2 separate regions of the Homo sapiens genome follow, and region 2 is linked to region 1. Evidence: fine-mapped expression QTL. A gene starts in region 1. The other region holds a variant in brackets. All regions are shown on one strand. Distances are between the middles of the regions.

Region 1 (15,391 bases):
AATCACCCTGCTTGGTAGGTATTATTATTCCAGTTTTACAGATGAGGAAACCAAGGCTAAGAGCAAATAAATGACTATTCGGTCCCCTCATAACATCCTAATGAGTTGCCATAGGCACTTTACCTGATTCCTGAAGTCAACCCCACTGTGCAGGGATGACTTGCAGAGGAAGCTCATTATACAAACAGAAATCTGTCTTTTCTTTTGAGACGCAGTCTCGCTCTGTTGCCCAGGCTGGAGTGCAGTGGCGTGTTCTCAGCTCACTGCAACCTTCACCTCCCAGTTCAAGTGATTCTCCTGCCTCAGCCTCCCACGCAGCTGGGACTACAGGCTGCGCCGCCACACCCAACTAATTTTTGTTTTTTTAGTAGAGACGGGGTTTCACCATGTTGGCCAGGCTAGTCTCAAACTCCTGACCTCAAGTGATTTGTTCCCCTCGGCCTCCCAAAGTGCTGGGATTGCAGGTGTGAGCCCCCACGCTGGGCCCAGAAATTTGTCTTCTAATGTTTAATCAGTGACACTAGTTTTATTCTTTGGGGCCACAGAATACAGATGAGGTAAAATGATCCCTCATTTAGTTCACCTGATTTACAGATGAGAAAATGGAGTGCAACCTGGGGTTTCATTAATGAGATCAGCTTCCAGAAGAAGAGATAACTATTTTATCTTTCCTCTCTAGACCAGTATCCCCAGTGGTACTGGAGGAGGCTTGTTCCAGGAGCCTGGGGTGGAGAATGCAAAGATGGCAGTCACGCCCTATTGTATTCTTCTGTAACTGCCTTGATGGTCCGAGGTTTCTGAAGTTGCTCCAAATTGCTCTCTCTCATTAGCCACACATTAAGAAGGACACAACACTTTAAGATGGATACCAGTGAACTAGTCAGGATCCAGAGGAGGGCAGCCTGCTGGTGGTCTAATGTCCAGCTGAACAGCTAAAGAGAAAGGGTAATTCAGTCTAAGGGACAGAAGATGAAGAGATGGCGCTTTCAAATATCTGAGCAGCTGTCAGTATAAATGAGGGAGATGGCTTGTTCTGCCTCGTTTCAGTGGCTGGAGACAGCACTTAAGGGTAAAAATTGCCAGGAGGTAGGATGTTTGGGCCCCTAACTAGCTGTGTGACCTTTAGTAAATCATTTAACTGAATAGGTACTGCCATGATAGATGGGAGTATGACCTCGGAGACCTATGAAGTTTCCTTATAATCATAAGTTGCTGTGATCTTGTTTAAGTCTTGCCCCAAGTTACACAGCTTGTGGCAGAATGAGGACTAGAATACATCTCTCCTAACCCCAAATCCAGCACTCTCTCCATGCCATATACCATACATTTTACAAATTATCTAGCACTCTCTCCATGCCATATACCATACATTTTACAAATTATCTAGCACATTGTTTAAAAACCATCTCAGATATAATTATTCATTAATTACTATGAATTTCTCTTTTGTAGGAGCCACACCTTAAAAAGGAAACGTGTCTACAAACATATCATTCTGTAAAGCAAATAATTTGCATGTAAGTGGACTTTACTGGAGTGCATGTAATCTCAATAGATGATGTTTCTCCCATGTTCAAAGCAATGAAAAGTGAGGGAGAAAAGTGGGATACAGCAGAAATCTTTCCTTGCTTGTTTCTGGTTATCAAGACTTGCCAGGAAACAAAAGGGGATGTCTTGTCCAAAGATTGCAACTCCGCAAAATTTGCTTAATTCCCTTTTCACTAAAGGAGCAAGCTGATGCTCCATGGTTCTGGGTAGCTCAGAACGAGCTTTGTTTAAAGAGGCTCACCAGGTCCATGGACTGTCACCTAAAGAAGGATCTGCAAGTTAGGGTCCATTCCAAACCGTGTCTATATGCGCTCTGATGGGGGCTCTGTTTGAATTGTAGGAATAAGCTTTAGGTTAGTTTAAGCTTTAGGTTAAACTAACCTGCTAAGATTTCCTTAAGCACCCTGGAGCAGTGTTATAGTCCATATATTCTTATGCTCTCTATATTTTTGAAGACCGCTATTCTATTAACTTAGGCAGTTCTGTTCCTTAGGACAAGGAAAACAGCATTTTTCCTCAGCCGACATGTACCAAGTGCCCATCTATATGAGGAACTAAATGTTAAAAGTTCCAACTCTTGATAGATTAATTCTCCCAGATACCTGGGAAGTGAGAGCATACCTAAACCCACAATTTAAGAATCCTTGTTTAAAACATAAAGTATATAATAAATTGATTCCGATTTTGATGATGATAATAAAGTCACTGGAATTTTATAGATTTTGAGCTGAAAGGGAACTTAACGATCATTTACTACAGCCAGTTAATTTTGTAGCTGAGGAAACTCAATCTTGGAAACACATAATCTATCCCCAAGGTCACAGTGCTGGTTAGTGCAGAGTAGAAGCAAGAAAGAGGGTACAGTCGGCCCTCTCTATGCATGGGTTCCGTATCCACAGATACACCCAACCACGGATCAAAAATATTCAGAGAAAAAAACACAGTAAAAAAATAACAAATGCAACAATGAGAAGTAATACAAATAAAAACACAGCATAACCGCTTCCAAAGCATTTACTTTATATTAGGTACTGTAAGTAATCTAGCGATAATTTAAAGTGTATGGGAGAAGTGTATAGGCTATATGCAAATATTACACCATTTTATATCGGATTTTTACATCCTGGATTTTGGTGGTGGGGTGGGAGTCTTTGAACCAATATCCCCACAGACACTGAGGGATGGCTGTATTCTGACTTCTAGGCTAGAGCTGTTTCACCAACATGATGCTAATAAAAAGGACAGGATTTTCTGCATCAATTCTAGGAGACAGTCAAGCTAATAATCAGAGGTCTATATTCTGCTCTTAATGTCTGGGTGTCCCAGGACAAGAAAATGAGCTATTGTGACCTCAAATTCCCTAGCCAAAGGAGTGAAACACTAATCAATGCCCTGTCAGATACAGGGAGGGCTCGTTCAGACGAGAAACAGATGCTGTGGGAAATACAGCTACTCAAAGAAAGGAACGCTCTCAGTATGATGGACCAAGGAAACGGCTCTATCTTTGGCTACTTTAAAGGGACTGAGTCCCATATATGTGATATGTGAATCAGACATCCAACCAACTCGTTCCCATAGAATATAAACAAATTAAGAACATAATTTAGGAACATAATTCTTAAAATCACTATGCAATCCAAGTAACAGTTACTTGACTAGACTGAGTTTTAAAGAAAAGATAAATTTCCACCTCCCTGGTTTAAGGTATGTTGTGGAAGGTGGATAAAATAGCATATCTTCCTATGCCTTTTGTTCTATGATTTTATTATTTTTTAAGAACATGTACTTATCCGGGGTATTATTTCCTATGCTTCATCACTAGACAATGTGCTTCCCAGGGACGCGGACTGTGTGATTCAACTCTCCTTCCTGTCTACCTTCCAAAACATTGTCTATGTCCACGATATCCCCAATGCCTAGCATAGTGTTTGGTATGTGGTAAGGACTCAATTTTAATCAAATAAATGAATGGATAAATTGCAAAACCCAAAGGCATTCTCCAAAGCACAAAAATCTCAGCATATTTAACTCTTCCATTAAAACCACTTAAATTCTACCTTACAGATTGGAATCATACCCCTGACATGTTCTGATGTATCTCTGCACAGACCTGTGATGTTATCAGTTTAACACATATGTGATCTCTCAGCATGAATAACCTTAATGAATACTATATAGAGTTTCAGTCGCAAACTTCCAGACACAGAAGGCGTATTCTGTGACTGGCCAAAATGGCATGAGGTCCTGCAGTCCATTCCCCTGGCTCCAAGCAAGACTGCATCTAATCTATGGTTGAGAATGATGCTTTCCTGAATGGGAAAGGTTTCCACTAAATGAAACATACAGTCTGCCTTGGTAAAGTCTTAAGTGTCTGAATGGAAGGTCAGACTTTGATTTCTTGAGGTAAGTATGGTTTTCATCCCAAGTGTAGCAAATTTCACTGGCGTTCCATTACCGACTTACTTAAATCATTTGCTAGATGACATAAAATTGCTGGTAATTACACTACAAAGAGTGATTATATGAAGTTTTCTTGTACAAAAGCAAGTAAATTTGAGCCTTATTCAATATTTTGTTAGGGAAATTTTAAATTAAATATGCCATTTTATTTAAAAAGAGAAACATTAGAAGAATATATATTCAGAAGAAAGTAGGGGGGTAGAAAAGGTTGCAAGTCACTAGTTTACTGGAACTACACAATGGGGATGATGTGCTGCTACTTGATACAACTAAATTTCCTGAGTTTAAATGATTTCAGTGAGACCCCCACACAAAACGGCCTGCACAGCCCTAATCCATGATCTAGGCTCGCCTCTCTCAAAATATTTTTTTAAAATAATGGTTCACGATCCTGAAATAATTGGTGGCCATGGGATGCCAGATGTGAGACATTTCATCTGAAACCTTATGTAAACTAACCCAAACCATTTGCTTCAGAATATCTTCCTTGACACCAGGAAAGAGTTTGGGTCCTGGGTTTGCATTTGCCTGATGGACTGACTGGCTGCTCTCAAAAATGGAAACATATGTGGGCACGATGAAGGAAAGGCTTTGGAAATTATGCAAAGAAATTTTCTTTTCCTTTTTAATCCTGTCTTTTTTTTTTTGCTTCCCCTAGGCAATAGGTATATTAAATGTTGGTGACTTTTTATTTTCAAAAGCACAAAATTAAATGTTTTTTGTGTTATTTCTCAGAACAATAACCTAACTTTGGCATCCATACTTTTTTTTTTTACAATTTGATGACAATGTTTAAAGAAATAAAGTGAACATCCCCCCACACACACTCACCGAAAGAATAAGGAAGATAATTTTTATTATTATCATCATCATAATTACTATTATTACCAATGAAGCTTGAAGGAACTCACCTTTATACATCACAAAGAAATAATTATTTGGTTTACAACTGATGAGACCACAACGAAAGTATGATTTGAGATAGCTAAGAGCAGAAATAAATTTGGATTTTTTTTGCTCTAATTGCACCTTCCACATAAACCCCCTTTGCTCTGGATTTGTGCTTTTTGAGTTGTTTGCATCATGCATAGGTGCAGACTTTGTTTCAAGTTCTTGTAAGAGCAGATGCCCTTATTTAAGGCTGAGTAAAGAGGAAATGCATTCCTTATAGGCATCTACATCCAACTGGCTTGGATTGTCTAGCACACTTACACGAACTACCTATTTTCAGGTCAATTCTAAAATAGAACATATCTCTCCAGAGGTACACATTTTGAAGATTATAAAACTTTACAGTCAACCTGTTTCACATTTCAGAACTCATTCCTTTTAATGCCAACAAAAGAACAACAAGAAAATGATTTTAGAAAAATTTTAAATCTGCCTCCTGAAATTTGCCACAAGGAAAACAAACCAAAAAAAGCCTCAAGAAGAGAACTATTTCTCTGTTTTTTTTATTAATTTGTTTTTTTAAGTTTGGTAAATATGAATTTAGCATGTTATGGAATTATGTTATAAACTGTACTAATAGATGCTAGTAATTCTTAAGTTTAAAGATTGAAAATTAAAATATGAAATATTTATTAGAAATACTTTATATTGCTTCAATTGGCTGCAACTGATACACAGCTGAATAAAACCATGAAATCGAAAGAATATTTAATCACATTGGGAAAGTGGACATTTTTAAGGGGAATGAATGTTTGAATTTGGACAAAATTAAAGTGCTTAGAAAACAAATAAAATTGACTATTGTTCAAAAAAAAATTCTGGTGAGGATAGTCTTGACATTTTACAAAGAATTTACATCTCTAAAGTGCTTAACTTAACCTCCACTACTTAACTGTCTGAAATGAAGGTGAAGCTAAATTTAAAGGACATTTTGCTTTTTTAGTTTTTTAAACACTTCCTTTGGCTCCTTCCTTTTCTTTTAATAATTTATCCTATTTTTTCTACCTTTATGCAGACAAACCAAGTGTCCATCAAATCAGGCACCAAAAAGCAAGCACTCTTAAATACAGTTCACTCAGGCTAATCATGACAGTAATTACTGACATTTTTATTAATTATAGCTCATTTTTTCCCCCAGAAGAAACAAAACCAAGTCTCTTGGGTCAGACCAGCAATCATAAAACGAAAAAGAAATAAATAATAAGTTAAAAATAGAGGGAATGTGTTAAAAAGAAGGAAAAAGTACTGTTCATAACCAAACTGTGTCACCTTAAAAAAGAAACATTTCCACACTTAATATCTGATTCAGACAGAAAGCTTCTCTCCTACTTTTGAAACAAATAATTCCACTTCAAATCCACATTTTCAGACACCCCTAGCTTTCTGCATCTGATTCCTACAACAGCCCCTTTACCTCAAAGAGGTAAAAGTCAGTTCACAGTATTTCTCTCCCAAACATCCCCACTGAAGCTCCTTGTAAATTTCAGCATAAACTCAGAACTGTCACCGTGGGTTTAGAAAATAATGACACATTTCAGCTATAACCCCCCAGATTGAAAGATTAAAAGGACTTTGCCCAAATTTAGGGGAAATGAAGGTGCGTGGGCTCACTCTGCAGCTGCAGTTTTCAGCCCTTGCAGTTTAGAAGATTCTGCATGAGCACGGATGCCACGAGGGTATCCAGCGAGTGGGAAGGGAGTCGCCCTACATGTTTTCACATCGATTTGTAAAACTGTTTTGAAAGGGTATTTCTAGATCCATTTGTTCCAAATGCAGCAAAATTCATCCGATATCGCTCACAATGCATGCACGGGTTATCTTACATGTAATAGCCATCGTATTAACCAACCCAGCTGATACTGAGATGGTGAATGGGGCGGGGGAGCAGGGAGGAATATGTCGCGCATGAAAAACTCCGGGTGTAAAAGTCAATGCAGAACTCACTCCCCGAGGAACCGAAAAAGACATTCACGACTCTCAAGTGGAGAGAGGATAGAAAGTCAAGTGGCGGGGGTCGCGACCAGTGATCGGGATTTCAGTCTGATCTCAGTACCCAGCGGAACAGGACCATAACCTAAAGAAATGAGCTTTTTCCGGAGCAAAGAGCGGCCCCGATTTCAAAGTAGAAAAAATAAACTGCTTGGGGGTGGAAGATGGCGAGGGGCGGGGGGCGGGGAGGGAGGCGGGTCGCGGCGCTGGCTCCGGGGTCCGCGGCACGGCCTCCTCTGCCGCGCTGCCCAGGGCCCGGACCCTGCCCGGCGCTGCGCCCACCGCGAGGGTGCCAGACCCGCCGCGCCGCCGCCGCGCTCTCCCAGCCGCGGCCCCCTCCCCCGCCGCTTCCTCTTGCTCTCCCAGCCCCTTCCCCCACGTGTGGATGACGTCAAAATTCCGCGAAAAAGCCGCGTGGTGGCTCCCCGAGCGGAGGCGCGATTCCGCCGCCCAGCGGCCCCCTCCCGGGGGCGCCTGGAGGGGGAGAAGGGCGGAGGCGGCCGGTTCCTTCTCCTCCCGGGAGGCAGGACCCCCCGACGCCGACCGCCGGACGCCCCCCGCCCCAAAGCTTATTGGAAAATTCACTTTTGTAAAGCAAATGTATTTCCAGAGCTATTTTCGGCCGCGTGAGGCGTGTCCTAAGCTGAATCAGACAGGAAGAGGGGGAAGTTCGGGTCTTTTAATTTTTTTTTTTTCCGAAGGGAGGGGAGTGAGATGCTAGGTGGGTGACAGACGGCAGGCGCTCGCCTTCTTAACTCACGCCTGTCGCATCTGCCGCCTCAGTAATCCAGCCCCGTCCAAGCCGAAATTCGCCGAAGGGAGTGCGGATGCACAGGCCTGGCGGACTCTGCCCCCCTCCAGAACGCAGCGGCCCAGCGCCCCGGCGGGCGCGGCTGCGACCAGAGGGTCCCGGAAGCGAGTGAACACCTGCAATCGCACTGCCCGTCCCCACCCACCCTGCTCCCCCGTGCTCTCCGCTTCCCGACGTTTTCCTCTTCTCCTTGTCCGCATTTTTCTACTTTGCCTGCACTCCCTCCTTCCTCTTGATGTGCCTCCTATGTGTCCCCTCGGATTTATGTGTCCCCTCGCATTTTGCCAGTCGGGTTTTCGGTTTTGATTGACCGTCCATCCCTCCACGGAGAAACACAAACACAGCTCCACTCTTTGGGGGAGCCGAGGGGAAGGCAGTGGCTCCCATTTCTGAGCCTGAACTCAGTCACTACCCGCTCCCCACCTGGCCTAGGCGCCCCTGCGCGGAGAAGGCGGGACTCGAACTCGCGCTGCTCCCGGGCCTTGAGCCGACCGCGGAATCACCTGGCTGGGAGGCATCCTCCAGGTAAGCTTGGGAGTATGTGTGCTTAGTGCTGCAGGCTCCTGCAGAAAAGTGCCTATAAACACCCAACACCCTGCTGCACCCTCCACCTCCAGGCTTTGTACACTTTCCAACCGAAACTCCAAAACGCTAGCGTAGAGGGTGGGGAGCCGGCCGGAAAAAGAATAAAAGTCCAATAAAACTGGCGTTCGCTAAAGTTTATCACCAGTCCTACATGGGATATATATATATGTATTTTTTTTTCCGTGAAGGGTGAAAAGGAGATAAGGAAGAACCAACAATCTACCCCCTCCCGCCGCCCCCCACCCCCGCGCCACGGTGATCAGTTTGGACTTCAAAGCCAGAGCACAGGCTCTTGCGCTTTTTCTTGAAACCGAAGTCTACACTGAAAGAAAGTGTGCACTTTTGCCTAGAAGGCAACATGCGTTTTCCCGCGTGCTAGGTGGAGTGCATTTTAACAAGACATTAGGGTTTTAACACATGGCTGGAGTGGCGACCAAAAGGGAAAACTCAGTTTCCAGTCCAAGCCTCCTAGAGACATTCCTGCCAACCTCCGCACCCTCTCACGCCCCACCCCACGTGTGAGAGTCTGCAAAACCACCGGGGATTGGATTCGATGGCGAGCTTCACGCTCGGGAACAGTCAGTAATCGGAAGGGGAAGTGGACAGGGGAACTTCAAGAGGCGAGCCTGCCACGCGGGAAGCGCCCGAACTTGCGGGTCTCCATGAATGCAGAGGGCGCCGGGAAGGGGGGGCATCCGGCCGCGACCCTCTCTGCCCCTCCCATTCGCTGCCCCCCTCCCCGCTGGAATTTCTCTGTAAAGCAAGACGGAGTAGGGGGAGGGGGAGAGGGAAGGGGCGAGAGGGCCCTCGGCTCACTCCCGAGACGTGAGGACTCGCCACCCAGGCATTCTCCTCGGGGTGGGCTGGGCCCCGGGACGACCACCCGCTTCTTCCTCGCCCCCGCTGCCCCCACTTCGGGAGACCCAGAGCTCTGGATGCCTTTCCCCGGAGAAGGGGGGGTGTGCGGAGTCGGGGTGGAAGAGACCTTGCTCGCAGAGCTATATCAAGTGATGTCCAGAGGCTGGGAGCCCCGGCGGCCTCTGTCCCTTGCCTGTCGGGTTAGATTTATACTTTAAAAATACCTCCCGCCCTCCCTCCTTCTCTCGCCTCTCCCCGCTGCAACTTTCTTTGATCCGCTCAAAGGTGGCTTAGGTGAAATTGGAGTAATTCCCTTATGGGGGTCTTAAAATGTAAGTGAATGTCCTTATCCGGGGTGACTCAAAAGCTTAAGTCGGGAAGCCCAACGTGACTAAAACCAATAGGTGATTGTTCGGGGCCGACTGTGTGCGGGTGTACACGGTATTCGGCCCGGGTGTCATCCGCGGCGCTGGACTGTTTCATTTTGAGTTTGCAACTTGGGTTTTTCAGCGAGCTTTTTTTCTTCCTGAAAGCTAATGGCTTCCACAGCAATTAGACATTTTCCTCGCCCGCCCCTTCCCTCCCCTTTCTTTACATATAGGAGATGGGATACTCATTCCCGCTGCTATTGATAAGGTCGGAGGCGGCCGGGCCTCTCCCCAGCTTTCGCCCGCCCCAGCGCCCGCTCTCCCTCCGCCCTCCCTTGGCTTCCTTTTGATGTAGTGGGGAACGCGTCCTACTAAAAAAAAAAAAAAAAAAAAAAAAAAAAAGTAATCTGCCCGGTAACAATCAGCGCGCAGTAGCAGGAGCCCCAGAGCTATTGGCTATGCAAATAGAGGGAGGGGAGACGGCGCCCCAAACTCTTCCTCACCCTTTTAAAGCGATATCCCCTCCTTTCCCCCCCACCACCCCTTCCGCCCCACCCTCGTTTAAAGAGGCTGGCTCCGGGGCCTGAGTTAATCGCTTGCACCTCTAGTTTATTCGCTCCCCTCCTCCGCCTTGCAGGGAACCTAGTGTACGGCTCACCCAGCCCGCGCCCCACCCCGCCTTGCTGGCTCTCCGCGCCCCTGCCCGGGCCCCCTCTCTCGGTGAGGGAGGCACTCAGTCGGCCTCGGTGTGCCCAGAGAGCTCGAGCCACGCCATGCCCGCTGCACGTGCCAGCTTGGCCAGCACATCAGGGCGCTGGTCTCTCCCCTTCCTCCTGGAGTGAAATACACCAAAGGGCGCGGTGGGGGTGGGGGGTGACGGGAGGAAGGAGGTGAAGAAACGCCACCAGATCGTATCTCCTGTAAAGACAGCCTTGACTCAAGCATGCGTTAGAGCACGTGTCAGGGCCGACCGTGCTGGCGGCGACTTCACCGCAGTCGGCTCCCAGGGAGAAAGCCTGGCGAGTGAGGCGCGAAACCGGAGGGGTCGGCGAGGATGCGGGCGAAGGACCGAGCGTGGAGGCCTCATGCCTCCGGGGAAAGGAAGGGGTGGTGGTGTTTGCGCAGGGGGAGCGAGGGGGAGCCGGACCTAATCCCTCACTCGCCCCCTCCCCCTCCCGGGCCATTTCCTAGAAAGCTGCATCGGTGTGGCCACGCTCAGCGCAGACACCTCGGGCGGCTTGTCAGCAGATGCAGGGGCGAGGAAGCGGGTTTTTCCTGCGTGGCCGCTGGCCGCGGGGGAACCGCTGGGAGCCCTGCCCCCGGCCTGCGGCGGCCCTAGACGCTGCACCGCGTCGCCCCACGGCGCCCGAAGAGCCCCCAGAAACACGATGGTTTCTGCTCGAGGATCACATTCTATCCCTCCAGAGAAGCACCCCCCTTCCTTCCTAATACCCACCTCTCCCTCCCTCTTCTTCCTCTGCACACACTCTGCAGGGGGGGGCAGAAGGGACGTTGTTCTGGTCCCTTTAATCGGGGCTTTCGAAACAGCTTCGAAGTTATCAGGAACACAGACTTCAGGGACATGACCTTTATCTCTGGGTATGCGAGGTTGCTATTTTCTAAAATCACCCCCTCCCTTATTTTTCACTTAAGGGACCTATTTCTAAATTGTCTGAGGTCACCCCATCTTCAGATAATCTACCCTACATTCCTGGATCTTAAATACAAGGGCAGGAGGATTAGGATCCGTTTTGAAGAAGCCAAAGTTGGAGGGTCGTATTTTGGCGTGCTACACCTACAGAATGAGTGAAATTAGAGGGCAGAAATAGGAGTCGGTAGTTTTTTGTGGGTTGCCCTGTCCGGGGCCCCTGGCATGCAGGGCTGGATGGAGGGAGAGGGGTGGGGGGTGGCGGGGGACCGCGTTTGAAGTTGGGTCGGGCCAGCTGCTGTTCTCCTTAATAACGAGAGGGGAAAAGGAGGGAGGGAGGGAGAGATTGAAAGGAGGAGGGGAGGACCGGGAGGGGAGGAAAGGGGAGGAGGAACCAGAGCGGGGAGCGCGGGGAGAGGGAGGAGAGCTAACTGCCCAGCCAGCTTGCGTCACCGCTTCAGAGCGGAGAAGAGCGAGCAGGGGAGAGCGAGACCAGTTTTAAGGGGAGGACCGGTGCGAGTGAGGCAGCCCCGAGGCTCTGCTCGCCCACCACCCAATCCTCGCCTCCCTTCTGCTCCACCTTCTCTCTCTGCCCTCACCTCTCCCCCGAAAACCCCCTATTTAGCCAAAGGAAGGAGGTCAGGGGAACGCTCTCCCCTCCCCTTCCAAAAAACAAAAACAGAAAAACCTTTTTCCAGGCCGGGGAAAGCAGGAGGGAGAGGGGCCGCCGGGCTGGCCATGGAGCTGCTGTGCCACGAGGTGGACCCGGTCCGCAGGGCCGTGCGGGACCGCAACCTGCTCCGAGACGACCGCGTCCTGCAGAACCTGCTCACCATCGAGGAGCGCTACCTTCCGCAGTGCTCCTACTTCAAGTGCGTGCAGAAGGACATCCAACCCTACATGCGCAGAATGGTGGCCACCTGGATGCTGGAGGTAGGTCGGGGGGTGGCGCTCGCCAGGAGCCAGGACCCCTCCGGATGCTCGGGTCCCCGGCCGGAGCCCTAAACCTGGGAGAGGGCAATCCCCGCGCCGGCCTCCCGGCTCCTGTGCGGGAGTTTACCGCGCGCCTTCTGGCGAGACGCGTGGCTTTATTTCTGTTCCTCTCCAGATAAACTGGGGAGGCAGAGGGGGGAGGAAAATCTGGGAGAAGCGAGGCTGTCCTGGGCGGGGGTAGGGGAGCATCCCGCGCGCGTGTTCCTGCATGTGGCTGCCTCTTCTTCCCACCCCCCTCGCGACCTGTCTTTTGCGAAGCCGCCGCGGCTGCTTGCGCTGCGGCCAGGAAGAGAGTCGGGGCCTGAAATCGGGACCCCGAGTAGAAAGGCAACCCCCCCCAAAAGGCCAGAGCAAATTCGTCTTGGCCTCAGGTCCCCGCCTGTGGTCGCGACTCCGCGCTGGCACTTCACCGGGGAGGTGGAGGGAGGAGGGAGAAGGAGAGAAACGGGGAATTCGGGAGCCCCGGAAGTCCCATTGAAGAAACGCGTGTTTCAGGGGAACCCAAAAGAACCGCTTCTTGCCCCTCACTCCAAGTCTTTGCCCAGCGAGCCGTGTGCCCACGTATGCACAGCTCTGGACCTGCCGTGGTTTCGCCATGTTGCTTTGCAAACTCCCTTTGGAAAGGCTGGGAAACGTCGCCCGCTTACCCTCGCACCCCATTATCCCGGCCACCCCACTTCTAATCGTGCCCTCTCCCCCACCCCCCACCTCACGAAGATTACTTACAGTTTGGTTTTCCAGCTTCCTCGGTGCGGAGATTTGGGTGGGGTAGGAAGGGGGGGAGGGGGTGTGTGTAGGGGGGATACCGGGTCACCCCTGAAGGAGAGGTGGGAGCCCCCCGTGCCTCTTTCCAGGGCTCTCTGCTCCCGTCTTTCCCCTCGCTCGTCACCGCGTTCCCTAGTTTCTGTCCTTGTGGGCCGCAGCCGGACACTCCCGCCGCGGCGCTCACCCCTTCAAGTTTCCTCCCGGGATCCAAAGCCCCAGGGGTCGGAATACAGACCTTTCTGGCACCCGAAACCTCTGTTTCGGGAAGCCTGGCTCTTCTTTGGGGTTTTCACGCCAAAAGGGCTTTTCTAGGATATTTCCTCGATTTTTAATTATTTTTTGAAACCATCCCCCCCTGCTCCGACTCCAGCTGCCGAGGCTGCGGCGCTCTTCCTCCTCTCCTCCCTCCCCCTCTCTTCCCCACCTCTCCTCACCCGCCCCCCCAAAAGCGGCCCCTGGGCCGCAGGGACCCCCCCAGACATTTTTTCCAATTGTCGGGAATGATAGAGGAGGATCTGGGGATCCGGATGAGACCAAGAAGTGGACCCCCGGAGCCTCCAGAATATTTTTATTGATTTTTTGAAAAGATGACGAAATCCAAAAAAGAGTGAGTGAGTTAGAGTGCGCGAAGGAGTAGCCAAAGGGAGCGTCGCGGAGCTGCCGCGGCTGCTGCGCACTTCTCCGACTCCCCGTTTTGGAGCTGTAGTTCACCCCCTTTTATAGGATCCCTGGGAATACCAAAGCACTGATGGGCTATTCTGATTCACTCCAGTTTCCTCATCTTTGTTCTTTATTCTTATCACGCATTCTGGTCCCCTCCCCCTCCCACAAAAAAAAATTAATTTTTTTTGTTTCGATAGATTACGCTTTTTTATTCTTTTTCTCTTTTGCTGATGCTATGCTCTCCACCCCCGCCCCCCAACCCTTTCCCACTCCCATTATAGGTCTGTGAGGAACAGAAGTGCGAAGAAGAGGTCTTCCCTCTGGCCATGAATTACCTGGACCGTTTCTTGGCTGGGGTCCCGACTCCGAAGTCCCATCTGCAACTCCTGGGTGCTGTCTGCATGTTCCTGGCCTCCAAACTCAAAGAGACCAGCCCGCTGACCGCGGAGAAGCTGTGCATTTACACCGACAACTCCATCAAGCCTCAGGAGCTGCTGGTAATGACCGGCCCCTTCCTCCCTTCCTTTCTGCGATTCCCGCTTTCCCCTGGCCAACAATATGCCTTCTATCACCACTGCCAGAGCAAATTCTTGGGATCCAGAATGACCCCACCAATAGAATTTACCCACTTATGGGCGATAGCTCATTTAATAGGAAACCACTGTTTATTTTTTGTGTGTTCCTACTATGTGCCCAGGCTCCGTGCCCAGCACTGAGGCTACATCTGTGAATAAGATCCTCATGGAGATTTGGGTTGGTGAGACTCATTTGCAATTGTGTATGCATGTGTGTAGGGGACGCATGGAATATTTTAATTAACAGTGATAATATTTTAATTAAATTCCAAATTTCCAAAAATAGTCTGAGAACGTGTTCACATGATAGGTATGTGGCTGTGGTGTCTCCTAAAAACTTGGAGTTCAAAGGTAATGCCCTCTATATCTACAAAGTCTCAAGATACCAACACATAATAGCTGTTCACTAAATATCAGTTCATTGACTTTTGAGCAAAGTCAAAATGTGGCCTTTCACTGAAGGAGTCCGAGGCCTGGGTTCCTACCTCCAGTGGGACTGTGACCTCTGTACAACCCCAGGGATCCTGTCTTATCTCTGCTTTTCTACCAGGGAACCTTTTTCCCACCTGATCTAACTCCTTTTCCCTGCAGCTTGACATATAAGACGACCATATTGCAGCTGTACCGCATGGAATAGCGGCTCCAAGGCCCACCTTCGGTGGTTTGCACACCCCTCTTTGCACTGTTCAGAAAAGCACCCCCTCCTTCCCGCCCCTCCCCCTCCTCACTGGTAGGGCCCGCACAAAGTCCACAGGGCTGAGGCTGGCTTCTTGAACTGAGCTCTTTGTGAGGAGCCTTCCTTTCTGGGGCTCTGCTGCCATCTAGTGGAAGACATGCACAAGGTTGGGGGAGGAATTGCCGAGAATGTGGAGAGGGGCCTGAATGACTTCACCTTTGAACCGCTGCCAGGTTTTAGCTGCTTCTGGTTTGGTCCGAGAGGCCTAGAAAGGTGCTTTCTTCTGGGAGATCTGCTTCCTTTAATAACGGTGCAAGACCAGTGGTTCGTACTCGCATTACCCTGTGAAGAGGAAGGGCTGGCATTTCAAGCCATCTTTGAAGATGATGGTGGTTTAGTAGTTTATTGGGGTGCTTTACCCCGGCTGTACACAGAAAGCCAAGGCAGATTTTAAAGCTTATGAAGAAAACATTGTTAGAATTGGGAACCAATTTGTTTTTC
Region 2 (15,391 bases), 39 kb after region 1:
CCTGCTTCTTCTTCCAAATGCAGTTCATTGCAGACACCACCATATTGCTATCTAATGGGGAAATGTAGCTATGGGCCATAACCAAAACTCACATGAAACGGAGGCAGATGGAGACCAAGGGTGGGATCCAGAATGGAGTCTTTTCTGTTATTGTATTTAAAAGGGTAATGTGGCCTTGGCATTTCTTCTTAGAAAAAAACTAATTTTTGGTGCTGATTGGCATGTCTGGTTCACAGTTTAGCATTGTTATAAACCATTCCATTCGAAAAGCACTTTGAAAAATTGTTCCCGAGCGATAGATGGGATGGTTTATGCAAGTCATGCTGAATACTCCTCCCCTCTTCTCTTTTGCCCCCTCCCTTCCTGCCCCCAGTCTGGGTTACTCTTCGCTTCTGGTATCTGGCGTTCTTTGGTACACAGTTCTGGTGTTCCTACCAGGACTCAAGAGACACCCCTTCCTGCTGACATTCCCATCACAACATTCCTCAGACAAGCCTGTAAACTAAAATCTGTTACCATTCTGATGGCACAGAAGGATCTTAATTCCCATCTCTATACTTCTCCTTTGGACATGGAAAGAAAAGTTATTGCTGGTGCAAAGATAGATGGCTGAACATCAGGGTGTGGCATTTTGTTCCCTTTTCCGTTTTTTTTTTTTTATTGTTGTTGTTAATTTTATTGCAAAGTTGTATTCAGCGTACTTGAATTTTTCTTCCTCTCCACTTCTTAGAGGCATTCAGTTAGCAAAGAGGTTGGAGCAACAACTTTTTTTTTTTTTTTTGCACAATTGTAATTGACAGGTAATGAAGCTATTTGTTAAAATATTTGCCTTTTTAAGTAAAAAAGAAAAATCAGAACAGGGCTATTTGAAGAATTATTTTATACACAGATTCTGCCTTGTTTCATAGTATGAGGGTTGAAGACGGAAAACAATCTAAGGGTCTCTCATTTTTTTAATTTTGTTTTGTTCAGTTTGGTTTTTTTTTTTTTTTGCGCTGCTAAGAAGCTAAAGTCATCCATCCTTATTCACGTTGACAGTACCTAGCTGTAATGTTTCACAGAGTGTGCTGCTATTTTATAAACATTTTTATAATATATTATTTTACTGCTTAAATTCCAAGTCCTGAAGTAGATGGTTGAGATATGAGTTCTTCGTACTGGAAAAGCCCTTCCGTAGTTTGTTTTCTTCTGGTAGCATATTCATGGTTGTTTTTTTTTTTCTTTTTTGGTTTTTTGGTTTTTTTTTTTTCCTCTGATCACATTCTTCAAAGACGGAGTATTCTTTACCTCAGGTTTACTGGACAAAATCAATAACTACAAAAGGCAATGATTCACGCTTTTGTTTTCATAATACCTCACAACCGTACAGTTTCTGCTTGGGAGCCCATTCGCATGAGGAATACAGAAGCAGTGTGAGCAGGGCTGACTCCCTCTCAGGTGGAAGGCAGGGCGGTCTCACTCCCAGGGACCTTTTTGGTCATGGAGGCCATCGGGCTCCCAGTTAGACCCTGGTATCCTCATCATGATGGAAAAAATACATTGAACCAAGGGATCCTCCCTCCCCTTCAAGGCAGACGTTCAGTACAAACATTTATGCGGTAGGCTCAGATGTCGTAATTTGCACTTAGGTACCAGGTGTCAGGAAACAGACTAAAAAGAATTCCACCAGGCTGTTTGGAGATCCTCATCTTGGAGCTTTTTCAAAAGCGGGGCTTCATCTGCAAAGGGCCCTTTCATCTTGAAGTTTTTCCCCTCCGTCTTTCCCCTCCCCTGGCATGGACACCTTGTGTTTAGGATCATCTCTGCAGGTTTCCTAGGTCTGAATCTGCGAGTAGATGAACCTGCAGCAAGCAGCGTTTATGGTGCTTCCTTCTCCCTCCTCTGTCTCAAACTGCGCAGGCAAGCACTATGCAAGCCCAGGCCCTCTGCTGAGCGGTACTAAACGGTCGGGTTTTCAATCACACTGAATTGGCAGGATAAGAAAAATAGGTCAGATAAGTATGGGATGATAGTTGAAGGGAGGTGAAGAGGCTGCTTCTCTACAGAGGTGAAATTCCAGATGAGTCAGTCTCTTGGGAAGTGTGTTTAGAAGGGTTCAGGACTTTGTGAGTTAGCATGACCCTAAAATTCTAGGGGATTTCTGGTGGGACAATGGGTGGTGAATTCTGAAGTTTTGGAGAGGGAAGTGGAGCAGCCAGCAAGTAAGCTAGCCAGAGTTTTCTCAAGAGCCAGCTTTGCTCAGCACACTCTCCTGGGCCCCAAGGAGTCCCACGGAATGGGGAAAGCGGGAACCCTGGAGTTCTTGGGAATCTTGGAGCCTAAAGAGAAACCGAGGTGCAAATTCATTTCATGGTGACTGACCCTTGAGCTTAAACAGAAGCAGCAAATGAAAGAACCGGACAAATAAGGAAGGGCACAAGCCTACCCGACTCTATTTACAGTCTGTAACTTTCCACTCTTCCTGTAGTCCCGAGGCCCCTGGGTCCTTCTAGCTTTTCTCTTTCCCATCCTTGGGGCCTTGTGTGATGATGGGTGTGGGGCTGCCGATGGGAAAGTCGGGGGTTGTTAGGCTTTTCTGCCTGCTCCTGCTTAAACACAAGAAGGAATCCTGGATTTTGCCCTCTCCTTAGCTCTTAGTCTCTTTGGTAGGAGTTTTGTTCCAGAGGAGCTCTCCCCCTTGGATTTGAACTTGCTCTTTTTGTTGTTGTTGTTCTTTCTCTTCTTTTTCTTACCTCCCACTAAAGGGGTTCCAAATTATCCTGGTCTTTTTCTACCTTGTTGTGTTTCTATCTCGTCTTTACTTCCATCTGTTTGTTTTTTTCTCCATCAGTGGGGGCCGAGTTGTTCCCCCAGCCTGCCAAATTTTGATCCTTCCCCTCTTTTGGCCAAATCCTAGGGGGAAGAAATCCTAGTATGCCAAAAATATATGCTAAGCATAATTAAACTCCATGCGGGTCCATAACAGCCAAGAAGCCTGCAGGAGAAAGCCAAGGGCAGTTCCCTCCGCAGAACACCCCATGCGTGCTGAGAGGCGAGCTCCTTGAAGAAGGGGCTGTTCTTCCAGGAGGCCTTATTTTGAACTGCCTCAGGACCCCACTGGAGAGCACAGCATGCCTTACTACTGGGTCATCCTTGGTCTATGTGCTCTGTACTGGAGGCTCTGTTCTGCCTCTTATCAGCCAGGTCAGGGGCACACATGGCTTAAGTGACAAAGCCAGAGGAGAAGACAACCCTGACAGCATCACGCTGCATCCCATTGCTAGCAGGATTGGCAACTCTTCAGACGGAGCTGCGCTTCCCTGCAGTCTAGCACCTCTAGGGCCTCTCCAGACTGTGCCCTGGGAGCTCTGGGACTGAAAGGTTAAGAACATAAGGCAGGATCAGATGACTCTCTCCAAGAGGGCAGGGGAATTTTCTCTCCATGGGCCACAGGGGACAGGGCTGGGAGAAGAAATAGACTTGCACCTTATGTCATGTAAATAATTGATTTTCTAGTTCAAGAAGATAATATTGGTAGTGTGGGAATTGGAGGTAGGAAGGGGAGGAAGTCTGAGTAAGCCAGTTGGCTTCTAAGCCAAAAGGATTCCTCTTTGTTTATCTCTGAGACAGTCCAACCTTGAGAATAGCTTTAAAAGGGAAATTAATGCTGAGATGATAAAGTCCCCTTAAGCCAACAAACCCTCTGTAGCTATAGAATGAGTGCAGGTTTCTATTGGTGTGGACTCAGAGCAATTTACAAGAGCTGTTCATGCAGCCATCCATTTGTGCAAAATAGGGTAAGAAGATTCAAGAGGATATTTATTACTTCCTCATACCACATGGCTTTTGATGATTCTGGATTCTAAACAACCCAGAATGGTCATTTCAGGCACAACGATACTACATTCGTGTGTGTCTGCTTTTAAACTTGGCTGGGCTATCAGACCCTATTCTCGGCTCAGGTTTTGAGAAGCCATCAGCAAATGTGTACGTGCATGCTGTAGCTGCAGCCTGCATCCCTTCGCCTGCAGCCTACTTTGGGGAAATAAAGTGCCTTACTGACTGTAGCCATTACAGTATCCAATGTCTTTTGACAGGTGCCTGTCCTTGAAAAACAAAGTTTCTATTTTTATTTTTAATTGGTTTAGTTCTTAACTGCTGGCCAACTCTTACATCCCCAGCAAATCATCGGGCCATTGGATTTTTTCCATTATGTTCATCACCCTTATATCATGTACCTCAGATCTCTCTCTCTCTCCTCTCTCTCAGTTATGTAGTTTCTTGTCTTGGA[CT/C]TTTTTTTTTCTTTTCTTTTTCTTTTTTTTTTTGCTTTAAAACAAGTGTGATGCCATATCAAGTCCATGTTATTCTCTCACAGTGTACTCTATAAGAGGTGTGGGTGTCTGTTTGGTCAGGATGTTAGAAAGTGCTGATAAGTAGCATGATCAGTGTATGCGAAAAGGTTTTTAGGAAGTATGGCAAAAATGTTGTATTGGCTATGATGGTGACATGATATAGTCAGCTGCCTTTTAAGAGGTCTTATCTGTTCAGTGTTAAGTGATTTAAAAAAATAATAACCTGTTTTCTGACTAGTTTAAAGATGGATTTGAAAATGGTTTTGAATGCAATTAGGTTATGCTATTTGGACAATAAACTCACCTTGACCTAAATTATCTGGCCGTTTTTGACTTATTTATAAACCAGCAGTCCTCAGAATGGAATACACTTGTCTCATGTCAGAACTGTTTCATGCCGCTGCAACATTTGGCAGTGGCATAAAAGACACATTCTAACCTGGAATGGAATCTACATGTGCCTCTGTGTTATGGCGGTACAAGTCATTGTTGACATTGCTAGGGGACGAGGGGTGCCTATGCAGCCAGCTTATAAGCTAGAAGCCTCAGTCCACCTTCAGAAGGTGGGTACATCACAGACACTATGACTGGTCCTCAGAGGATCGTCCCTGATTGTTGCCAGCTACTCATTCTGGGCTGTGAGGAAGCATCTCCTGGCATGAGAGGTACCAGAAGCCTGCGGTGCCATCTCCAGAGTCTAGGGAGTCTCTGGGAACCCTGCCCCTGCAGCTTTCCTGGCTCCTGCCTGCTGTTCTTCGTGGCTCCCACCTGATTTCTGATCCTTCCTGCACCCCTCTTCTGAGACACAGGCCACAACTACCTTTGCTGGAGTCTGGAGAAGCAGAGCCTGGGAATGGGATGTGACAGTCTCCGTACTGCTGAAATGAATTGCCAGGCCCTAGGCCCAGCTGCTCTTGGACCTTAGCTCAGACCAGCTTCTTTCCCGAGAGTGATGGGTGTGCAGAAGACAAGGGCCTAATGAACACTTTTTTGTGTGTTTTGTTTAGAAACAGGGTCTTGCTGTGTCCCCCAGGTTGGAGTGCAGTGGCACAATCCCAGCTTGCTGCAGCCTCACACTCCTGGGCTCAAGCAATCCTCCTGCCTCAGCCTCCCAAGTAGCTGGGATTACAGGCGCCCACCACCACGCCCAGTTAATTTTTTTATTTTTTGTACAGATTTTTTGTATAGCTTTGTTGCACAAGCTATAACAGACATTTTGATGTTACTGTAAAATTAATTTTTTCCAAAGTTCCTTGTCTGGAAGTCATCGAAGGCTGTTTTCCATTTTAATTCTGACCTGAGTTGTAAACAAGATTTAAAACTGGCCGTTGGGGAAGTCCAGATTAAGATATTCCAGGCTGATCTCAAGTAACTTCACTTAATAGGACTTTTAAGCTTACAAGGACCCTAGAAATTCCCCTTTGTTCCCATTCCCCTTGACATCCGCCATTCTTAGCGACAAATGGGGGTAACTTTTTTCTTGGGTTTCTGCCTAGTGAAGTCTGCTGGCCTCCTGGGAGTTTCAAGGGCCTCTGGTTGCCATTCTTAACCATCCTTGGAATTCTCTTTGGCATGACATAATGTCCAACTGGGTTCCTCTCCCTCCCTTTCCCTATCTTTTTGCTCTGTAGGATCAATGCTATATCTGTTTATAGCATGACAACTCCACTCCCTCTCTCAAATGCCACCCAGCAACACTGCTGGGCTTCCCCCATTCTGAACAATGGATGTTTTAAGGGCGGGAAGAGCAGATGAAGCACACAGCCGAGCAGTGAGAAATCTGACTGTCCCATCTACGCTCTTTCAGACCCAGATCATCTTATAACTGGAAAATCTCAAACTTGGAAGTGCCTTTCCTGAAAGTGGCCATTAAAAATGCAATGAAGACCTGGAAATCCCCGATCTTTTGTGCGTGTTCAAGGGAGTGCTTTTGTATCTCTAATGACTTTCTAAGATTTGGAGCTTTTATTTAGTATGCAGAGGTATCCCCAAAATTCACCTTCCCAGTTGGCTTAGCAGTAATACTGTCAAAATACTGACACGAAGCAAGTACTCAAAAGCTGAATATTACACCAGATTACTTCCCTGCTCTCCTGGCAATTACAGCAACAGCAAAAATGCTGTGGACAGAGTAGGGAGATTCAGAGTATCAAGGTAAGCCTAGTACTCACAGCCGATGTGTTATGTGGGGCCTGTACTGAGCCTTTAAGGAAAAGCACAGAAAAAAACAGGACACACAGGCCTATGAAATAGCAGAGAGAAACAACAGCAAATGCAAATGAGTCTGGGGGGAAATCGATGCTAAGGTGTGGGAGGGGGCCCTTGCAGAGGAACAGGTTTCCTCAAGCAAGTGAGTTTTAGGAAAACACTTTTGTTAGGAAGATCATGTGGGTCAGCATAGTTTGGAAACGGAAACAGAGTGTGACCTTTTCCAAAAATAAAAGGGATGGGAAGTAATTTTTTTTTAAATGAAGGGAAAATATTCCACACAATTTAATAGATTTTAAACAATATAAACACAGATGTTAGGCTTGTGAAACAGGATAAGCACAGCCACAAACATTGATTTGGGATTACCACCCACCTAATTTCTCATGAGGCTTAAAGAAAGAAGGCTGGACGCTTCAATATGACTGGTGGCTTTCCTTGTCTTTGGGCTCTGGGGGCCTCCCCGTGCTGGAGGGGCGGATTCCATCCGCTCGGACCACAGGCTCAGTCAAACAGAACTGGGCGGCCTGAGAAAGCAAGACCAGCGCCCCTGCCTCTGTCTCATTGTCCCCCTGAAGCTTTGAGTTTATGCTTCAAGCTTTGAGTTTACTCATTATTATGGTTTCTTTCATGCTGATTCGCTCGGAGGACCCTGGCCCTTCTGCTGCGCTCACCGCCGCCGCTCTGGTAAATGACTGTCCGCATGGTTTCAACATGCAGTTCTTCCTGCGAAGTCCACTAGGTGGTACTAATGCCACGGACAGGATCACTCACAAGGAAACCCAGAGCCAGCCGGGTGTAGGTTGCCTCTGCCCTGCACGGAAGGGAACACCTCCCTCCAGCAGACAGCACTGGAGCAGCACCCCCGCCTCCGCCATCTCCCCAGGGCAGCCTGGGGAAGGAACGTCAGGCCTTTCCCGTCCACACCTGGCGCAGTTCCCTCACCTGCTTCTCTCACTACCGCCACATCGTGACTCCATCTGGGGTGGCTGGTGCTGGTTCATCACCTTCCCTGACTCTTCAGTGACTAATCCAGAGATGGCACACTGGCAGCTTACAGACCAAATCCAGCCTGCAGACATAATTAGCTTGACTCCCACAGTGATTGAAACTGTCTTGGATTTACTTGCCAATACAAGATGAGAGCTTTCACATAAAAGTCAGGATTGTAACGACTCTTGGGAGATTTAAGTCCTGGCAACCACAGGCCCGCGAGGCCGCGAGGGCTGCAGCTGAGTGTGACTGGCCCCTTTCTCTACCCTCTGCCCACCCCACAACCGACTGAACCCGCTGCTCTCTTTTACGGCGCCTGCCAGTCGGCTTAGGGCTTACAGCTCTGCAGCCTAACCTGTGTCTGTTTTACCTCCCTGGCCAGGAAGGAGGGCCCAGTAAGTCCCAAGTGGAGTCATCCTCCTCCAACCCTCTCCACCACAAACAGACCTGGAATACTTCTTTCAGTTTGTGGACCATAACCTCTCCTTCTCAGACGAAGAAAGACCGTACTGCCTCAGTAAGCATTAAGATCTCTTTATGTCTTTATGAGTTTTTAGTTATCAGATTACCCCGGGGCTGGGCCAGATTTTTGAAATTCCTTTGAGATCCCAACATTCAGCCCCACGCCCAGGTCTGCAGGTAGGCCCAAATAAGGTGGGGTGGTAAAGATCTGCTTTTTGTTTTTTGGTTTTCTTTTCTTTTGTTTCTGGAGATAGGGTCTTCCTTTGTCTCTGAGGCTAGAGGGCAGTGGCGTGATCACAACTCACTGCAGCCTCAACTTCCCAGGCTCAAGTGATCCTCCCACCTCAGCCTCCCAAGTAGCTGGGACAACAGGCATGCACCACTACATCTAGATTGTTTTAAAAAATGTGTTATAGAAACAGTGTCTCACTATGTTGCCCTGGCTGCTCTCAAACTTTGGGCCTCAAAAGATCCTTCCCACCTCAGCCTCCCAAAGTGCTGGGTTACAGGTGTGAGCCACTGTGTCCAGACAGCTTTTCCTGCTTTTGTTTGTCTGGAGAGTCATTTTTAGTGCTCCTGGCACCATGGAGATTCCATGAGAAGACAAACCTGTGAGATTTCTATATTTGTTGAAAAAGTGCAAATCTCTGTGGCTATGTTTCGGTCAACCCATTCACTGAAAATCGCTACTCTTCATCATCCCCTTCCCACACAGGGCTCCTGGGCACTGCTCGTTTATTCAACAAATGAGGGCTGGGTACGTGCCTGGTGCTCCGTATGGGACCCCTCATTCAACAAATGTGTCTCAGTACTTGCTTTTCCAGGGATGAGATCTCTGCTCTCCTTGATCTCAAAGGCTAAAGACAGAGACAGATAAAAAGACAACTGCTACTTGGTGGTTGGCCCAGAATACAAGTGCTCTATGCTCTGCTCTGGAATGCCCCCCCGGCCACCCACTCGCTTTGTAACCTTGGGCTCATTACTTAGCCACCCAGCAACTCACAGTAAACTCAGTGACTTAGTTTTTTCATCTGTGAAATGGGGTTTTGTAGTTTTGAAAGAGCTTTCCACAAGCCTCTCCTATAATCCTTTTATAACTCTGGTGAATTTGGTACCTTGTTTTGTAGCTAAGTGAATGGAGGGTCACACGGCTCACTTGGCTTATCACAAAGAGTTAGGCTAGGACTGGATCCCAGATGTGTCTGAATTCAAATATCATGCATCTTCTGCTACACTGGGCTACTTTATTGATCCATATTTTGCTTACTGAGCATTGAGCTGAAAGAGTGAGACTTTTAGCCCAGTGTGGGCAGGAAGGTTGCAGGGGGTGGGGGGGGTTGGATGATGACATCACTTAGTGAAATCATCAGGGGATAGTTTTTTAATGAAGACAAAGTCAATGAAGAAAGTAAAGGGCCTTGTCATCTAAGGAGGAGTTTGTCAGTGAATGTACACCAAGGAAGTAGCCTTTTCTTTCCAGCGTCTTTGCCTTGCCCCTTGGCTGTTCTTCATGCTCATTCCATTCAGGTTATAAATGCGTTGCTCATAAACTCCTGGGAAGGAGCCATGGGTTCTGCTTTCCTCCCAAATCCCCAAACCTATGTCAATTAAAACAAGAATCACAGCCAGGCGCGGTGGCTCACACCTGTAATCCCAGCACTCTGGGAGGCCGAGGTGGGCGGATCATGAGGTCAGGAGAACAAGACCATCCTGGCTAACATGGTGAAACCCCATCTCTACTAAAAATACAAAAAATTAGCTGGGCGTGGTGGCATGTGCCTGTAGTCCCAGCTACTCGGGAGGCTGAAGCAGGAGAATCACCCGAACCCAGGAGGCGGAGGTTGCATTCAGCCGAGATTGCGCCACTGCCCTCCAGCCCGGGTGACACAGCAAGATTCCATCTAAAAAAAAAAAACAAAAACAAACAAACAAACAAACAAACAAAATCACATATCTAGTTTGTCCCTATTCTTCAGGGACCCACGAATATCTGTGTTATTATTATTTCTCCCCCAACGCTCCCTCCTTCCCCCACCAAGCCCAGAGAATCTCAGTCCAGAGGCAGGGAAGCCTTGCTTGTATCATCAGCCTCCCAAGCCTTTGCTATTTAAAGATTCCTTTTGTTATCCTATAGGAAGAGATATTCTTTTTCTTGGTTTTTCGTGGCCACCTTCCTTGCCCCGAAAAAAGGGACACAGGAGGAAGGGCCCAAAAACGTAGAGGAAAAATACTGTAGGAAAAAATGCTGATTAATATTTCCAAAAATATTATTTTACCATGGATGCAATGGCCTGAGGCCCTGCAAGGGTGAATGCCACACTGAGGGTCACCCAGCAATGTACAAATGAACAATGAAGGACAACTGCTGGCCTCTGCAGGCTTCCATTCATTGCTCAGCTCTGTGAGCCTCTGGACATCTTGGTGAATACCCTCAGAAAATCTTGAAGCACCACAGGTTTTAAAAGCAGTCACTCACTTATGTTTTTCATATGTCACTGTAAGCTCATCATGAAGGGACTATGGAAGATTTGCTTCCATATGGCACTGCCTAGGTATTAGGGCCAGGACACCTAGGATTTTAGGGCCTAGCGGTCTTCTCTTTTCCTTAGCATTCTGTCAGGGCTCTGGCAAGAACAAGAGGATTGGCCTTTCTAGCCAATGTCCCCCCCAGTGCTTGCTACTTGCCTGGAATATTATGGACTGTATCATACATTTCTGTATTACATACAATCATTGTGACAGAGTCAGGATGCTGTGGTGGAAAAAGGCTTAGGTAATAAGATGATCTGACTTTGAATCCCAGGGCTGCCACTTAGCTTTACAAGCTCTGAGTCTCTGCTATTCTTTTATAAAATCTCTCTGGATTATTAGAAGGATTAAATGAGGTAGTCTATGTAAAGTGCCTAATACATAGAAAGCTTTAACAAGAATCAGCTAGTCTGAACATATGCAAACACACCAAGGACCGTGTTCATTGCTTTTGAAGGCATTGTAGATGCAATGTTATTTTCCCAAAAAGTCAGGGGTGGAGGTGGATATGGGTTTTCTGTGGATCCTGATGAGACTACTATCAAGAGCACAGCAGTGAAACAAAAGCATTTACAACTCTCATAATATCCCCTTGGTGCTGCCGCCCTTCTTCCAGACAGCAATGAACTTGGGCTTGGGGAGCGTTCTCTTCCCCACTAAGTAACAGGCTAACAGGCAAGGCATGAAAAGGGATTAGAGGATGCATGTATTCAAATAAAGGGGAGTTCCCCAGAAGCACGGCAGGCTGAGAAGGCATCTTTCGACTGTCCATCAGTAGGAAAGCTGTTTGACTGGCAGATATAATTTTTTTGGAACCAGCAATAATGGGGAGCTATTGGTGACAGATGTCAGATGTTGGCAGAGCAGCTGCCAAAACAAGTCTCCCTCCACCTTCAGACATCAAGCTGATGGGGACTGGGAGTCCCTTCGCACTTGGGTCATTGGTCACATTATTATTTCTCAGTCGCTGGACAAAGCAGATGGTTTACCATGTATTTGTGATTTTCTGTTGGCCTAGAAATTCTGTTCTTCCATCAGGGTACAGCATGTAATCAATTATGACAGTGGGTGGTGCAAGAAAATCCCTGCCAGTAAAAGCCCAAGACTTTCTCTTTTATTAAGTCTGCATAAACCACTACAATTTCCAACTTCAAAGCAATAGAAGAAAAAAGCAAAGTAGTGGTGTTATAAATAACTTGGGTAATCACAAAAACCACAGTTCTCAGTTGGTCCCAAACACTCTCAGTCTGTACTATCTGATGTCAGTTTTGTCTGTCCATTTTTATTCTGAAACTTAAAATCCTCTTGTCTCTATTCTAGTAAGTCTTAATAATATACGTATATTTTTAGACAGAGTCTTGCTCTGTCACCCAGTCTGGAGTGCAGTGGCACGATCTTGGCTCACTGTAACCTCCACCTTCCAGGTTCAAACAATTCTCCTGCCTCGGCCTCCGAAGTAGCTGGGACTATCATGCACAGCTAATTTTGTATTTTTAGTAGAGACAGGGGTTCGCCATGTTGGCCAGGTTGGTCTTAAACTCCTGACCTCAAGTGATCTGCCCGCCTTGGCCTCCCAAAGTGTGCCGGGATTACAGGCATGAGCCACTGCACCCTGCCTCTATTCTGGTAAGTCTTAAAGAGCTTTATCTTAGAATCATAAAGTGACCTAATTAAAAATAAACAGAACAAATACCAGGAACATACTACCCCTCAACTAAGGTTTTTTTTAAAAAAAAAATTCTCAGCTGTATTCTATTACATAGTAAAAATAGTAAGTTGCCTTGCTTTAGTATGTGTGAGTAGCCACATAGAACAGTTTATATGTTCTCCATCACCCACCCTCTGGATAATTTTCTTTGTGAAAGACACCTTGCTTATTTGTATGCATGTGTCTCAGGAAATAAATTCTTTAGTAATAGAGCAGAACAAGCATTTTTAACATGATAACTACCAACTAGAGAAACTCTTGACATAAATTACACATTTTTTCTTGTCTTTTAAAAATATGTATGTATTTTTTCTTAAAAATCAGGCTCATAAACGAATGGCTTTCTACTCTTTTTTCATGTAATCTCCTATCAGGGGAATGTTATCATACCATTAAATATTCTGTAAGAACATGATTTCTAGGGCTGGATACGGTGGCTCACATCTGTAATCCCAGCATTTTGGGAGGCCCAGGCAGGAGGATCACCTTAGGTCAGGAGTTTGAGACCAGCCTGGCCAACATGGTGAAACCCGATCTCTACTAAAAATACAAAAATCAGCTGGGCGTGGTGGCACATGCCTGTAATCCCAGCTATGTGGGAGCTGAGGCAGGAGAGTTGCTTGAACCCTGGAGGCGGAGGTTGCAGTAAGCTGAGATGGCGCCACTGCACCCCAGCCTGGGTGACAGAGAAGACTCCGTCTCAAAAAAAAAAAAAAAAAAAAAAAAGAAACAAACCAAAAAAAAAAAAAGAAAAAAAACCATAGATTCTAATGAATTGTTTGGGCTCCTACAATATATCTAGTACTACTTGAGGTGCTGAAGACACAGAAGGGAACAAGCCAGTCCCCACGGTCAAGGAATATATATCCTGCTGAAGAAAGACAAGCAATGAACCTACAAAAATGTTCATAAATGATATAATTTCAGAATAAAATCGGATGATGGATAGTGACTGGGCAGCCTACTTTGCTTGAGGGAAGACCTCTTGAGAGTGGGACTTCTGAGTTGATACCTGAAGGCTGAGAAGGAGGCAGCCATGCAAATATCTTGGGAAAGAGCTCTGTGAGCAGAAGGAACAGAGAATGCAAAGATCCGGAGGTAGGAATGAGCATGACGTGGTCTACGAACAGAGAGAAGCCCTGACGGCTGGAGCTGGATGAGGAGGGGCAGCGAAGAGAGAATTGTAACTGGAGGGCCAAGAGGGGCCATGCCACATAGGCCTTGCAGGAGTTGGGACTTCATTCTAACTGCAATGAGAATTCAATAGAGAATTCTCCAGCAAGGGAGTGACACAATAGGGACATCTCTTCAATGGCTGAGTACCAGAGTAGAGGCAGCAGAGCTATGCCAACAGGCTATCACAGTAATCCAGACGAGAGGTGATGAAGGCTCAGCCTGGGACACAGTGAGACTCCAGAAGTGGTGGATTCAGGACATAATTTGGTGATAGACCCCATAAACTTTTTTTAAAGGTTTTGGATAGATAGCTTTTATCATTTATTTATTATTGAAGATATGTACGACACAATAAATAAGCTTGCTTCAGACGTATATATAGAACTCTGTATCCAATAATGAGTGAATCCACATTCTTCACAAGGACACACGAAACATTTCTGTGAAATGCCTGTGGACTAGTCCACAAAGCAAGTCTCTGTAAATTTCAAAAATGTATACCCTTGAAAATCTCTGAAGTCCTGGAGATTTAAGTCTGCAACTATCTTAGTCTTACTACCAAGAATAGCCCCTAAGGAAAAAAAAAAACCCTTTCAATAAAAAAAAGATAAACAAGAATAATATAAATTTCACAGACTCCAGCTAACCAGCTTTTGGTCACAATGTAATTAATTTCACTCTTAATGCATTGCTGAAAATATTTAAATGCCTGGGGAACTGGCTCCAACCCACAATCTCCTCCCCTACCCTACATTCCAAATAGATCAGGCATTTTACACTTGGCTCATCTTCGGTGAAGACAGTAATTAATCTTTATTTGAAAACAAGATTTGGGAGGCAGACGCAGGCAGATCACCTGAGGTCAGGCGTTTGAGACCAGCCTGGCCAACATGGTGAAACCCCATTTCTACTAAAAATATAGAAAAATTAGCTGGGCGTGGTGGCGGGTACCTGTAATCCCAGCTACTCAGGAGCCTGGGGCAGAAGAATCGCTTGAACCTGGGAGGTGGAGGTTTCAGTGAGCTGAGATCACGCCACTGCACTCCAGCCTGGGTGACGGAGCAAGACTCTGTCTTAAAAAAAAAAAAAAAAAAAAAAAAAAAAAGCAAGAAAACGAGTAAAATCCAGCACTCACTGCATTATTGAGCCTACAGAAATCTATGATGAATTTGACAGGGAATATTAGGATAGGTAAAGAATCAAGGGTTTCATGAGCAGTCAAGTGGAGGGTGTTACCATTTACTGAGATGAGAAAGACTTGAAGACCAGCTGTTTTTAGGGGTAAAAATGGAAGGTTCTGTGTGGACAAAGTTAGCCTGAGATGTCAACTATAGACCCAAGCGTAGATGTTGAGTAGGCAACTATAACAGATAAACGAATGAGGAGCTCAAGGGAAAGGCCAGGCTGGGGATATAACTAAGATCTATACACTGGATTAGATCATCTAGCTGACTGCACAGTTGAGTAGAGAAGAGAGCCAAGGGCAGAATCCTCAATACTCCAACATGCACAGGGTTTATGGGATTGTCTACCCCCCAACAATTCATGTGTACCTCACGTTTCCCATCACCTCTGCAATTTGGTAGGGCCACGTGAGTGGCTCTGGACAATGAATGAAGGAAGCATCTAAGGACTGGTTCAAGACCCTCAACTATTCTCATCTCCTGCCTCAAAAATCGTGAATTCTTATGTTTCTGAAGTTAACATGTCTGTCAACCCTAGGTCCTGAATGAGTATGTGGCTTTAAGACCCTTTCTGATCCACGTCAGACATATAGCATGAAAGAAAAACAAACACTTGTGTGTGAAGCCATGGAAATTCCAGAGTTAATTTGTTACCTCGGCATAACGTGGCCTAATCCAGAATGCCATCATATGATGCGCTTCAACAAAGCACCATTTTTCATTTTTTTAAAAAGGCGTTATGTGATTTGAGAGGCTGTCAACAAAATATATTGGTGGATGGCTGGGTGTGGTCGTTCATG

The links.
Region 2: its variant is fine-mapped to the expression of CCND2 in whole blood (TOPMed, PIP 0.92).

Annotation. Positions count from the first base shown.
Region 1 is chr12:4,262,085-4,277,475 of GRCh38, forward strand. It overlaps CCND2 (cyclin D2), which reads left to right and starts at 11,678. Exons shown (of 5, transcript NM_001759.4): 1 at 11,678-12,151; 2 at 13,921-14,136. The coding sequence starts at 11,957. CCND2-AS1 (CCND2 antisense RNA 1) reads right to left here and starts at 14,100. Exons shown (of 2, transcript NR_125790.1): 1 at 13,975-14,100. RefSeq lists silencers at 7,295-7,504, 7,515-7,584, 9,099-9,168, 9,793-9,984, 9,969-10,088 and 2 more.
Region 2 is chr12:4,300,708-4,316,098 of GRCh38, forward strand. It overlaps CCND2 (cyclin D2), which reads left to right. Exons shown (of 5, transcript NM_001759.4): 5 at 1-4,646. Among named protein-coding and RNA genes, the nearest start is that of TIGAR, 13 kb to the right of the region's middle. The variant CT/C (reference allele first, on the strand shown) is at 4,271.